Linked DNA regions of Homo sapiens: region 2 is linked to region 1. A link means that fine-mapping ties the variant in region 1 to the plasma level of a protein whose gene starts in the linked region. Region 1 holds a variant in brackets. A gene starts in the other region. All regions are shown on their reverse strands. Region 1 has its middle 11 kb from the start of RPN1. Region 2 holds the start of IL15 (interleukin 15).

Evidence for each region. PIP is the posterior inclusion probability: the model's chance that the variant is causal. Protein levels are from antibody-based Olink assays in UK Biobank. Linkage for the fine-mapping came from a reference panel and not from the study's own genotypes, which makes the PIPs less certain.
Region 2: IL15 starts here. The variant in region 1 is fine-mapped to the plasma level of the IL15 protein (UK Biobank, PIP 0.99).

What each region holds. Positions count from the first base shown.
Region 1 is chr3:128,660,583-128,663,494 of GRCh38, reverse strand. No RefSeq gene overlaps it. Among named protein-coding and RNA genes, the nearest start is that of RPN1, 11 kb to the right of the region's middle. The variant C/T (reference allele first, on the strand shown) is at 1,557.
Region 2 is chr4:141,635,181-141,638,092 of GRCh38, reverse strand. It overlaps IL15 (interleukin 15), which reads right to left and starts at 1,510. Exons shown (of 8, transcript NM_000585.5): 1 at 1,345-1,510. RefSeq lists an enhancer at 1,508-1,597.

The DNA of each region.
Region 1 (2,912 bases):
TGCCTGCTTCTCTCCCCTGGCAAAATCTCAGAGAACAGGGTAAAGACAATGGCAAGTTCTTGCTGAGTGACACCTGGACGCTAGGACCTAAGCACTCAGTGGGTGGGGAAGTGTGGGAGAAGCCAAATTCCTCTCCACTGGCCTCTCTTGAAATGCAAAGTACTGGGACGAGGGTGACCAGGGCTCCAGTCTCCTCAGTGCACCATGCCTAAGGTAGCACCTTTGTCCTGCAAGTTGGGACTGAATAGCGGAAGAGAAACTGCTACTCTCAGCTGTACTTGCCTACTATCTTAGATTAAACAACAGGTAGCTGGAGGCAGGATGAGAAACGCTGACCTTTTCCTCATCCCAAAGATAAAGCCTTCTTTTTTATTTTTATTTTTTATTTTGAGACGGAGTCTCACTCTGTCGCCCAGGCTGGAGTGCAGTGGCAGGATCTCATCTGACTGCACCCTCCGCCTCCCGGGTTCAAGCTATTCTTCTGCCTCAGCCTCCTGGGTAGCTGGGACTACAGGAGTGCGCAACCAGGCCCGGCTAATTTTCATATTTTTAGTAGAGACGGGGTTTCACCATTGTTGGGAACAAGCCCCCCAAAATCTGGCCATAAACTGGCCCCAAAACTGGCCATAAACAAAATCTCTGCAGCACTGTGACATGTTCATAATGGCCCTAACGCCTGCACTGGAAGGTTGTGGGTTTACGGGAATGAGGGCAAGGAACACCTGGCCCGCCCAGGGCAGAAAACCGCTTAAAGGCATTCCTAAACCACAAACAATAGCATGAGCAATCTGTGCCTTAAGGACATGCTCCTGCTGCAGTTAACTAGCCCAACCTATTCCTTTAATTCGGCCCATCTCTTTGTTTTCCATAAGGGATACTTTTAGTTAATTTAATATCTATAGAAACAATGCTAATGACTGGCTTGCTGTTAATAAATACGTGGGTAAATCTCTGTTCGGGCCTCTCAGCTCTGAAGGCTGTGAGACCCCTGATTTCCCACTTCACACCTCTATATTTCTGTGTGTGTGTCTTTAATTCCTCTAGCGCTGCTGGATTAGGGTCTCCCCCACCGAGCTGGTCTCAGCACACCATATTGGCCAGGCTGGTCTCAAACTCTTGACCTCATGATCCACCCGCCTCGGCCTCCCAAAGTGCTGGGATTACAGGTGTGAGCCACTGCACCTGGCCAGATAAAGCCTTCTGACTAAGAGCTGCAGGGAGAGGGAGCCCTGTCTGGCAGCAGCAATCTGCAGCAGATTCTCTGCCTTGCTGATCTGATAGGGAGGAGAGTGGTGGCAGTCTTGGTTCAGATACCTGAGATGCTTGCTTTTCCTACAGAATATTCATAGATTTTATTGAATAAGTGTTTCTGCATTTTCCTGTTGCCCTTATGACAATTTCTAGAGTTTTTGTTTGTTTGTTTGTTTGTTTTTGAGACAGGATCTGCAGCCTTGACCTCCTAGGCTCAGGCAATCCTCCTGCCTCAGCCTCTTGAGTAGCTGGGACCATAGGTGCATGCTACCATGCCCAGTTATTTTTTAATTTATCTGTAGAGA[C/T]GGGGTCTCCCCATATTGTCCTGGCTGGTCTCAAATTCCTCGGCTCAAGCAATTCTTCCACCTGAGCCTTCCAAAGTGGTGGGATTATAGGTATGAGCCACTGTGACCAGCTCGTTTCTAGAGGTTTTAAGTAGTTGGGTCTTTATAGTTTTCACAAGTCTTACTGGAGAATAGGTCATGGAGCTCCTCATGCTTTCATGCTGGAATTTGGTATTCTACTTATGTCTGTTTTTTTTGTTTTGTTTTGTTTTTTGTGATGGAGTCTCACTCTGTTGCCCAGGCTAGAGTGTAGTGGTACAATCTCAGCTCACTGCAATCTCTGCCTCCCAGGTTCAAGTGATTCTCCTGCCTCAGTCTCCCGAGTAGCTGGAATTACAGGCATGTGCCACCATGCCCAGCTAATTTTTTGTATTTGTAGTAGAAATGGGGTTTTACCATGTTGCCCAGTCTGGTCTTCAATTCCTGACCTCAGGTGATCTACCTGCCTTGGCCTCCCAAAGTGCTGGGATTACAGGCATGAGCCAATGCCTAGCGTGTTATAGTCTTTTTGTTAAAGTTCTGAAAACATTGATTTTTACCATTTCTGCCAGTATTCTTATGGCATTAATGGATGTAAACCAAAAATAAAATTCTAAGCCCCCCAACCACCTGAATGGATTCCTCCTCTTGGCCAAGGGCATTCCAAAATAAACCTGAAACATTATTTCAGACCATCATGGGAATGGGTGGTGGGACAGGCCACATTATACCTTCCTCTCGTTGAAATTCAGGCACAACTGACCAGCATTAACATTAAAACAGAGACCTTGAGACGGAGAGAGCAGACTCTGTAGCAATAAGATACCAACATGACAGATTGCAGTCACAAAATAAATAAAAAGGCCGAGCGTGGTGGCTCATGTCTGTAATCCCAGCACTTTGGGAGGCTGAGGCATGTGGATCACCTGAGGTTAGGAGTTCGAGACCAGCTTGACCAACATGGTGAAACTCCATCTCTACTAAAAATACAAAAAATTAGCCAGGCGTGGTGGTGCATGTCTGTAATCCCAGCTACTTGGGAGGCTGAGACAGGAGAATTGCTTGAACCCAGGAGTTGGAGGTTGCAGTGAGCCAAGCTTGTGCCACTGCACTCCAGCCTGGGCAACAGAGTGAGACTCTGTCTCAAAAAAAAAAAAAATAAATAAATAAAAATATTTTATCCCAAAATATATTGCTTCGACATATTTTGAAATGGGCCTGCAAAACTGTCTCTTTAAGTCTGATAAAAACATTTACAATCTATTCTCTTTGAAGCCTGCATAATAGAACCTGAATTTCATCTGCATAATAAGAACCCCTTATTTTAACCCCAGACAC
Region 2 (2,912 bases), not on the chromosome of region 1:
TTTTATTCATTTATTTATTTTTTGACAGGCTGGAGTGCAGTGGCAGATCATATAGCTCACTATAAACTGGAACTCCTGGTCTCAAGCTATCCTCTCGCCTCGGCCTTCCAAAAGTGTATTGTATCTTGATGCTTTCAGTAGAATGGTTCACCTTATAACCTCTACATGGCAGGATGCATAATCACCAGTTTATTCTGTAATACCTGAGCAAAAATTCAGCCTAGCTAATATGGCCTCTTTCACCACACTGACAAGATAAGGATGACGTCCACTTAGTTGGCCACCACCAGTATCATAATATTAGATAGTAGTTTAAAAATATATAATGGAAACTAGCTGGTGACCACCACTTTACTTCCAGTTTTGAAATTGCTGACTCATCCTATTTAAGAATCTGTTGTAAGCATCATTTAAGAATTAGTTTGGTTTAGACATACTTTGAAGTCAACATAGTTTTTAATGCATGGAATTACATAAAGTCAAATGAACTATATACCCTTGCTACATGCGGTCTTAATAACACTTGAAAAAATTGGCTGGATTTTCATTTAAAAGCCACCTTGAATAATGATTTTATTTCAGTGAAATTCGCTCGTATTTTTTCCAAGTTCCTTCGACATTCTAGATACACTATCGCTTCTCTAAGAGATAACTGGCTGGCGCAGAGTTGGAACCAATACAGACCCAGGCCTGACTGCCAAGCACTGACCATTCCTGCAAATTTCTCTCCCAGAAGACGTGTGCAAGCAAAGAAGAGGGCGATAATTTGATTTTGCAAAGGTAGGGATAGACGCGCACGCACAGACATCTGCACCGGCCCACAATGAGTTTGGGACGGGAGCAGTTAGGAAGTGGGGAGCTGCGGTACCTTTTCTTGGCCTTCCTGAGCTTGACTGGGTGCAGAACTCAGCCCTCAGGGCTGCGGGACAGCGTCTTCTCAGAAACCCGCAGCTTGGCTGGGGCCGCCAGACGCGCGTCCCTCACCCTCCCAGCGGAGCGCGGGGTGCCCGGCCCGCCTTGCGCTAGCCAGCAGCCTGGAACGCCGTAAGAGCGCAGCGCAGTAGGGAGTCGCACGCCAGGGGCAAAGGGACCTGCGATCTGCGCTCCTCCGGAAGCGGGAGGATGGCTAGGAGAGCCTCAGAAGTGTCATTAAAGGAAAAACCAAAAATTGAAGTTGCGGCTAAGTTTTCCCCATGAGAAGGCGGGGCAGCTCGGCCAGTAGGATAGACCGGAGGGTAACGCTGGAGCTGGGAGGGGCCCTGGGCGTAGGCTTTCGGGGAAAATTCCATCGCCCTTTCAACCACCACCACTCCCCTCCCAAGGCAAAGAAGCCGAGCTCTGTACCTCCATCGAGTCCTGGCTGCAGGGTGGGGGGCGACAGCCACCGCAGCCGGGAGGGTGCGGCCACCCAGTTCCCTCCCGGGGGGCGCCGGACTTCGAAGGCAGTGAGCGAGTCAGCTGGGATTCCCCCGGGCGCCTGCCACCCGGAGTCCCAACCCCTGGCGAAAAGAAAAGTGAAAGAGAAAGAGCCGGGAGCATAGGCGAAGACAAACACCTCCCGCGGAGACTGGGGGTGGGGCGGGTGGCGGCGGCTCCTGGATGACTGACTGCCCCAGGTGTCACTGCTTCCCGGCCTGTTTCCGTCCCTGCCGGGGCCTGGGGCGCAGAACTTGCAGGGCAAGCGCAAGGACATCGAGGAGCCCCAGCCCCGCCCTGCAGGAACACCAGCCACCGGTCTCCTCCTCTACCTGCCGGGACACCTGCAGAGAAGGCACAAGGATAGCCGCATCCCAAGCGACGGGCACCATGTGGGAAGCTTCCGCAGCTGAACCTGGAGACCCGGGCTGGGCTGGCGCGCATCCAAGTCTTCCTGAGGAAAGGGAAAAGGATGTCGGATCTGGATGCTGGGCGGCTACTCTAGACCGGCCTCTTGGTCCCCGCACAGGCTGCAAGAAGGAAACTTTGAAGTCCAACTAGGGGAAATGTTGGAAGAAGACACCCGGGTGGCAGCTTTGTGCAAGACAGTTGGTACAGGGAGTGAACTTAGAGCAATGAGCCTCTCTGCGGATCACTTTTCCAGCCTATTGTGTAGTCCAGTGTAAAATATCACACATGGTCCCATTTGATGGAAGCGTGAGATGTTGTTCTTGTAGTATTTTTACATTGGAGGAAGGAACTGAGTTGAGGCTGAGTGATTTGCATGCCATAAAGGCAGTAGCAAAGATCTCACGCTTAGTTTTGAAAGTACTTTGCAGAATCTTGCACTCTTGTGAATCACTGAAAATCCCTCTTGTACGGTGCTTTCCAAATTTTCAGAGTCATGGTTCAGAGAAAATGATGTCTTCCTGGAGCGCAGTTTAATTTAGTTTAAAATTTAATTATGTTTTTAATTACATAAATATGATAAATATCAAATAGAAAAATAATAGAAATTATTCACTTTCCATGTACATAAAGTTCCGTATAATATAATTTCATATTTTTATGAAAAATTTGAGTTTATTTTCATTAACTCAATTTTTTGATATCAGTTTTATATTTGAAATAATTACTGATGGACTTTTTGATGAGAATTACATCAAACTCTAGATAGTCTCCATTAACAAAATAAGTGAGGTATAAAAATGCAAAAACAGTTTTTACAACCATTCAAAATTTCACCATAGTTGGAAATTATATTTAAGAATATGAAGCCATCATCCATTTCTGTTCATGACGATGTCATGTTGAATTTTCTTGTGATGGTGTCAATGGATTTCAAGACCAGTCAGAATTTTTCATAGCAATACATTGAAGCTCTGATTTGCAGAATGAGCATGCACTGGGAGAGCAAGACTGCAGCTGGTTTGGATCTCACCACAAGAATATAGCAGCCACGGAAGGACTGATATGCATATGTGTGAAGATAGAGA